Homo sapiens: one gene and its partner. Changing the gene in region 2 together with the main gene of any one other region gives a genetic interaction. Each region holds a gene or a part of one and is shown on either strand. Other genes may lie near its edges. The genes, in order: CDC7 and ING5.

Evidence for each region.
Region 1: changes in ING5 (region 2) and CDC7 are lethal when combined (synthetic lethality), as found in Homo sapiens cells (one large-scale study listed by BioGRID).

What each region holds. Positions count from the first base shown.
Region 1 is NC_000001.11:91,514,190-91,518,009, forward strand, and holds part of CDC7 (cell division cycle 7-related protein kinase), read left to right. Parts: intron 1-629; coding exon 630-808; intron 809-1,552; coding exon of another isoform or gene 1,553-1,562; exon of another isoform or gene 1,563-1,604; coding exon 1,605-1,687; intron 1,688-3,820. UniProt on the Homo sapiens protein: Kinase involved in initiation of DNA replication. Phosphorylates critical substrates that regulate the G1/S phase transition and initiation of DNA replication, such as MCM proteins and CLASPIN.
Region 2 is NC_000002.12:241,705,039-241,708,858, forward strand, and holds part of ING5 (inhibitor of growth protein 5), read left to right. Parts: intron 1-3,820. UniProt on the Homo sapiens protein: Component of the HBO1 complex, which specifically mediates acetylation of histone H3 at 'Lys-14' (H3K14ac) and, to a lower extent, acetylation of histone H4. Component of the MOZ/MORF complex which has a histone H3 acetyltransferase activity.

The DNA of each region.
Region 1 (3,820 bases), on a different chromosome or scaffold from region 2:
GTCAAAACTTGTTTTCTCCAGTTTTTTTCTGAACTTTTCTGGTGGAATTTTTTCTCATTTTTGGTTAGCTATTACTGTCTTTCTCTAGAGGAACATTTAGAACATTAAGGGCTTTCTGTCATTGCTAGAGTGTGAGCTCCATACAGTTAGCTAACTATTCTGACACATAGTTGATAGTGTAAAGATGTTTGTAAAGTTAACAAAATCATCATCAATGTAGATGATTTCAGATTGACTTATGATATCTTGTGACAGCTAGACAGCATGAGCAACAAATTAAAACTGTGATTTTAGCCAACGTACTTGTGCAGTTTACAGTTCTGAAATGGAGTTAGACACTAGAACATAACTGTTTTATACTTCTGTAATATATCAGGAAAAGTTCTAATAAAGTATAACTCAAATATTGGCCAAGCTAGGACTAATTAGTAAATTTTAATATAAGGTGACTTTACAGAAAAACCCAAGAAGACCTTAAACATTTTAATAGACAACAGTTTATTTACAGTCCAATAGCCATTCAGCAGTTTTTAAAGTTATGCTTCCGCTATTGCTTTTTGCCATACTAGCATTTTAGGACATCATGTTTAATATCATGAAAATAGAAAAATGAGACTTTTCTTTTACAGCTCATGAAGCAGTCAAAGACTGTGGATGTACTGTCTAGAAAGTTAGCAACAAAAAAGAAGGCTATTTCTACAAAAGTTATGAATAGTGCTGTGATGAGGAAAACTGCCAGTTCTTGCCCAGCTAGCCTGACCTGTGACTGCTATGCAACAGATAAAGTTTGTAGTATTTGCCTTTCAAGGTAATGTGTTTTGATGGTGTTATAAAATCACCAGCATGCTGCCATTAGAAATTGCATTGACTTGGGTGGATAATTTTGTGAGTGCAAGGGATCAGTTCAGATCAGTGAACTGCAATGGGCCTTGATGCAGAGCAGTAGTATGTTGAAGAGCAAATGATAACAGTTTTCATATATTATTTATTTAATATGGATATACTCTGGAAAACACATTTGCTCTTATATGCAAATAAGTGGGACGGGGTGGCTTTTAGAAGCTTAGAATCACACATTTTGATTGCTGATGTAGTCTTTTCTGTTTTCTCTTTTTATTCCCGCTTATGTGGAGTAACCAGAACCAAATAGTAGAGCTCCTCTTTTACTCCCACCTCCAACTCTTTGACTCATAAATTTCTTCCTTTCCTTCAAGGCTTGGCTTTCATAAAGCCTTTCTTGATTAACTCAAATATATAAGTGTATCTGTGATCAATTACTCCAAACAAATGAATTTTTATACCTGTGAATTGCTATTGGGTTCTATTTTTTCTATTATGGCTCTTATTATCCACTACTGCTTTTTATTCTTGGAGGTTATTTTAAACCTTTCTGGAGTAAGTCCGGGGAACTAGTAGAGGGGGTAAAAAACAGAAGAAGAAAAATCTAGGATTTTTATCACACTAGATTATCATTTACTTTATAGTAACACTTATTATATAGGTATCAAGGCAAAATTTACTGTGAACTAAATTGATGAATGTTATTTTTTAGACTTACATAGTTCAACTTTAACATAACTAGAGAAATCTTATTTCATCATAAGGCGTCAGCAGGTTGCCCCTAGGGCAGGTACACCAGGATTCAGAGCACCAGAGGTCTTGACAAAGTGCCCCAATCAAACTACAGGTATGTTGTACTGGAAATACAGAACCTAGTTAAAATGGATTGTTCCAGACGTATTTTATTTTATGATCTTTGTCTATTTATAACTAATATTTGAGTTCTTCTGCTTTTAATTATGTAAGCAGTTCTTGCAGTGTGGCATTCCTATTTTTGAGCTAATGCTATTCTTTATGAAAGTTTTTAATCCTAATGTTGCCTCTCTTTTTTTGTTTAAACAGTTTATTCCATAGATTACATTTTGCGTATTTATTTACAAGATGATCTTACCATCTTGTAAATAAATACGCAAAATGTAATCTGTGGAATTTTGCTGACATCACCTTTGTGGGGGAAAAAATTATGTTTAATAGTTTTTGCCAGCCAAAGACTTAAAGCATTTTATTTGCTTGCTTAATACCTCAAAAGTTTCCTGTGATGTAGATATATTTGTGTTTGATTAAAATTACTTTTGTTATTATATAAACAATATAATAGCAGTTAGAAGGTTTTGAAAAAGAAAAATGTCTTCCGTAATCTAAAAACTTACCATGGAGCTGGAATCCAGGAAACATCTTGAATGAATAGATGAATCCTGCTATTCACTTGGATTATGGGCTTTGAAGAAATGTATTCATTCATTGAATGTCTGTTCTTGCTTGCTAATGATAACAAATAAATAAATGAGACCATCTGTTCACACTCTAGTCAGGACACCATCAAATAATTATAAAATAACCTGTTGAGTATGGTAATAAAACTTATTCAGGGTATTTAAGGAGTATCTAACTATCCTAACCCAAAGAGATTATGAAAGGCAATTCATGAAAGAAATGACCTCTTAGAATGTAAATTGGGCTGAGAAGTTAGCATAGAGGCATGAGCCAAGGAACTCAAGAAACAGCATACAGGAAACTAAAAAAGTTTCATTTTGGCCAGACGCGGTGGCTCATGCCTGTAATCCCAGCACTTTCGGAGGCTGAGATGGGCGGATCACCTGAGATCAGGAGTTTGAAACCAGCCTGACCAACATGGTGAAACCCCATCTCTACTAAAAATACAAAAATCAGCTGGGTGTGGTGGTGCGCACCTGTAATCCCAGCTACTCAGGAGGCTGAGGCAAGAGAATCACTTGAACGCAGGAGGCGGAAGTTGCAGTGAGCCAAGATCGCACCATTGCCCTCCAACCTGGGCGACAGCAAGACTTCATCTCAAAAAAAAAAGTCCAATTTTGCTAGAATATTAAGATGCAAGTTGAGGAATGGTGAGAGATAAACCTGGAATGAGGTAGACAAGGTCAGACCACAGTTGTTACAGTTTGGACTATATACTGTAGATATTGGAAAGTTAAGTGAAAAAAGTGACAATGGTATATCCTAGATGGATCATTCTGGCAGGCGTGCAAACAGATTAGCTTTTGGAGAGTGGTGGCATGAATTTGTCCGGGTGAGAGGATGAAAATGTGAATGAGGGTATTGGTAATAGGAATGAAAAGAAAAGTGAAGGGTTAGAAAGGCAGAGCTTGGTGGATAATTGGATGTAGAATTAGGGTGTGGTATGGTGAGGGAAAAAGGCATTCAGGATGTTTACCAGATTCCTAGCTTGGGAGACTTGGATGTGTACCAGTAACCAAGGTGGAGAGTAAAGGAGAAGTAACTGGTTTATAGGGGAAGGTAAGGTTAGTTTGGGGTATAATTGGTTTGAGGTATTTGTGGGACATCCAAATAGAGATTTCCAGCAGAATCAAAGTTAAGTCTGATGCTCAGCGAAGGAGCTGGGCTAGAAATACAGATGAATGTCATCATTATATAAATGACAGTTGAAGCCATGAAGTGGATGGACCAATCAGGGAGAGTATACAGAGGGAGAAGTTAAAACTCTGAGGAATATCCGTCAGCACTTAAGGCTTGGAGAAAACATTGAAGGAGCAGGCAGAGGTACCAAAGGAGCTAAGAAAGGCAAGTAGGGCCGGGCACAGTGGCTCATGCCTATAATACCAGCACTTTGGGAGGCCAAGGCAGGCAGATCACTAGGTCAGGAGTTCGAGATCAGCCTGGCCAATATGGCGAAATCCCGTCTCTACTAAAAAGTACAAAAAATTAGCAGGGCATGGTGGCACACACCTGTAGTTCCAGCTACTGGGGAGGCTGAGGCAGGAGA
Region 2 (3,820 bases):
AAGTTTGGTAGTACTTTTTGGCCGTTTGATATTTAACTCCGTTTCTTTTTTTTTGAGACGGAGTCTTGCTTTGTCGCCCAGTCCGGAGTGCAGTGACGTGATCTCAGCTCACTGCAAGCTCTGCCTCCTGGGTTCACACCATTCTCTTGCCTCAGCCTCCTGAGTAGCTGGGACTACAGGTGCCCGCCACCACGCCTGGCTAATTTTTTTTTTGTATTTTTAGTAGAGACGGGGTTTCACCGTGTTAGCCAGGATGGTCTTGATCTCCTCACCTCATGATCTGCCCGCCTCAGCCTCCCAAAGTGCTGGGATTACAAGCGTGAGCCACCTCGCCTGGCCCTAACTCTGTTTTTTTCTTTTTTTTTTTTTTTTTTTTTGAGACAGAGTCTCACTCTGTTGCCCAGGCTAGAGTGCAGTGGCACGATCTTGGCTCACTGCAACCTCCACCTCCCGGGTTCAAGTGATTCTCCTGCCTCAGCCTCCCGAGTAGCTGGGACTACAGTCACATGCCACCACACCCAGCTAATTTTTTGTATTTTTAGTAGAGACAGGGTTTCACCATGTTCACCATGTTAGCCAGGATGGTCTTGATCTACTGACCTCATGATCCGCCTGCCTAGGCCTCCCAAAGTGCTGGGATTACAGGCATGAGCCACCGCGCCCGGCCCTTAAACTCCCTGTTTCTAAACAACATGTTTTTGTTGCTGTTTCTTATTTTATCTCTCGTCAGTTTTAGACGTTGTTCAGACGTATATGGCACAGGCAGCTGTACTTCTCCAGTGGCCCCCACACCCTCACATGCCCTCACCTGGCTCCCCCATCTCCTGGCTGTAGGTTGTTAGAATTTGTGGTGAGACCAGTGATGGGACTTCCATTGGGCAGCTGTGTAGGTACTTTAACACTGAGCCATGCCACCTGCTGTGCTTATATGACCTCTTTGGAATAACTTTGTGTATTTCTTAGAGTTACTCATGGCCCTGTTTGTTGGCTTTGTTTTCTGCATTCGACCCTTGTCTCCCCAGCTGGGCTTTTCCTTGTGGTCTGTCAGGCTGTCTACCCTGACAGTTCTGTGTGTGCTTTCTTTCCGCAGAGCCCTCTGTCCTGGAGGCCACAGTCCTGATTGTTTCCATGCCAACTGCACACTTGTTGCCCTGAGGTTTTCCTGGGATCTCCTTTCACCCCTCTTCAGTGTGGGACCCTCTTCCCTGAATCTTAAATGTCTTCTTTTTGCCCTTGCTCTCCTGTTTTGATAGAGCCTTTCCTTTGGTAGGTTCCTGAAAAAAAGGCACATAGGAAGGTAGATTTTCTTGGCCAGGCACGGTGGCTCATGCCTGTAATCCCAGCACTTTGGGAGGCTGAGGTGGGCAGATCACCTGAGGTCAGGAGTTCGAGACCAGCCTGATCGACATGGAGAAACCCCGTCTCTACTAAAAATACAAAATTAGCCGGGTGTGGTGGCGCACGCCTATAATCCCAGCTAATTGGGAGGCTGAGGCAGGAGAATCACTTGAACCTGGAGGCGGAGGTTGCACCTGGAGATCGCACCATTGCACTCCACCCTGGGCAACAAGAGCGAAACTCCATCTCAAAAAAAAAAAAAAAAAAGAAAAAAAGGAAGGTAGATTTTCTTGTAACATTGCATGTCTGAAAATGTGTTTGTTCTAGCCTCATACTCAGCTGATAGTTTGGTTGGGTATAGAATCCTAGGTTGACAATTGTTTTCACTCAGGAAGTTGGCGACATTGCTGCCTTGTCTCCTAGCTTCCACGTTGCTGCAGAAAATCTGGTGCCGTTTGGATTCTTGGTCCTTTATATGTGTGATCTATTTTTTTTTTGTTATTCCTATTCAGAAGCTTTTGAGATGTTTCCTTTATCTCTGAAGTTTTAAATTTCATGATAATGTGTTTTGGTGTGGCAATTTTTTTTTTTTTTTTTTTTGAGATGGAGTTTCACTCTTGTTGCCCAGGCTGGCGTGCGATGGCGCGATCTTGGCTCAACACAACCTCTGCCTCCCAGGTTCAAGTGATTCTCCTGCCTCAGCCTCCCGAGTAGCTGGGATTACAGGCATGCACCATCATGCCCAGCTAATTTTGTATTTTTAATAGAGATGGGGTTTCTCCATGTTGATCAGGTTGGTCTCAAACTCTCAACCTCAGGTGATCTGCCCGCCTTGGCCTCCCAAAGTGCTGGTATTACAGGTGTGAGCCACTGTGCCTGGCCTGAGATTTTTTATTCATTATGCTGGGCACAGGTTTGTTTTTTTTGTTTTGAGATGGAGTTTCGCTCTTGTTGTCCAGGCTGGAGTGCAATGGCACGATCTCAGCTCACCGCAACCTCCGCCTCCCGGGTTCAAGCAATTCTCCTGCCTCAGCCTCCCGAGTAGCTGGGATTACAGGCATGCGCCACCACACCCTGCTAATTTTTTGTATTTTAAGTAGAGACGGGGTTTCTCCATGTTGGTCAGGCTGGTCTTGAACTCCTGACCTCAGGTTCATCCACCCGCCTTGGCCTCCCAAAGTGCTGGGATTACAGACGTGAGTACCACACCCGGCCTGGGCACATGTTTTGCAAGACTGAGATAGCTGTGTTTTTTTCCTTAGGTACAGCATCTTGACTAGGGAATACAGAGAGTTATTTTATTGTGAAATGTAACATATATTCAGGAAATGAATGTGCAACAATTATAGATTGCTTAACAAATATTACCAGGTGAACCTCTCTGTTGTCTGCTACCGAGATGGAGAAATCAAGCCCTTTGGCACCTGAAGGCCTTTGTGACCCTCCTAGTCATGACACCCCTCCCCAACCAAGGGGTGACCATCCTGAGTTTGGTGACAGTCACCTTCCACCTTTAACAGTAGTTTTCTTTTTTTTTTCTGAGACGGAGTCTCGCTTTACCATCAGGCTGGAGTGCAGTGGCACGGTCTCGGCTCACTGCAACCTCTGCCTCCTGGGTGCAAGTGATTCTCCTGCCTCAGCCTCCTGAGTAGCTGGGACCATAGGCACGTAACACCATGCCCAGCTAATTGTTGTATTTTTAGAAGAGACGGGGTTTCACCACATTGGCCAGGATGGTTTCCATCTCTTAACCTCGTGATCCTCCTGCCTTGGCCTCCCAAAGTGCTGGGATCACAGGCGTGAGCCGCCGTGCATGGCCTTCAACAGTTTTCTTTTGTTTTTTTTTTTTGAGATGGAGTCTCACTCTTTCGCCCAGGCCGGACTGCAGTGGCGCTATCTTGGCTTTCTTCAAGCCCCGCCTCCTGGGTTCACGCCATTCTCCTGCCTCAGCCTCCCGAGTAGCTGGGACTATAGGCACCCGCCACCACGCCCGGCTAATTTTTTGTATTTTTAGTAGAGACGGGGTTTCATCAAGTTAGCCAGGATGGTCTCGATCTCCTGACCTCGTGATCTGCCCGCCTCGGCCTCCAAAAGTGCTGGGATTACAGGCGTGAGCCACCACGCCTGGCCTAGTTTTCTTACCCCTCTAAACTGAAGGGTTAAGAGTTGTGTCTGTTTCTGCTCTTCATATTAATGGAATCATCCAGTATGTTTTCTTTTGTTTCTTGCTCTTTTTGCTCCGTGTCACCTTCTCTGGGAATCATCCGTGTTGCTGTGTGTGGCTGTAGTTTGCTCTTTTTGTTGCTGAGTAGCACTCTGTTGTCTGAAGGGACCACAGCTTATTTCTCCATTTTACTGAGGATTGGACATTGGGGTTGTTTTCTGTTTTCTGCTCTTATGAATGTTTCCCGTGTGGATTTCTTTAGGTGACATAAGGTTTGTTTAGGGTATTTAAGAGTAGTGTGTTCTTTCTTGACTGCTC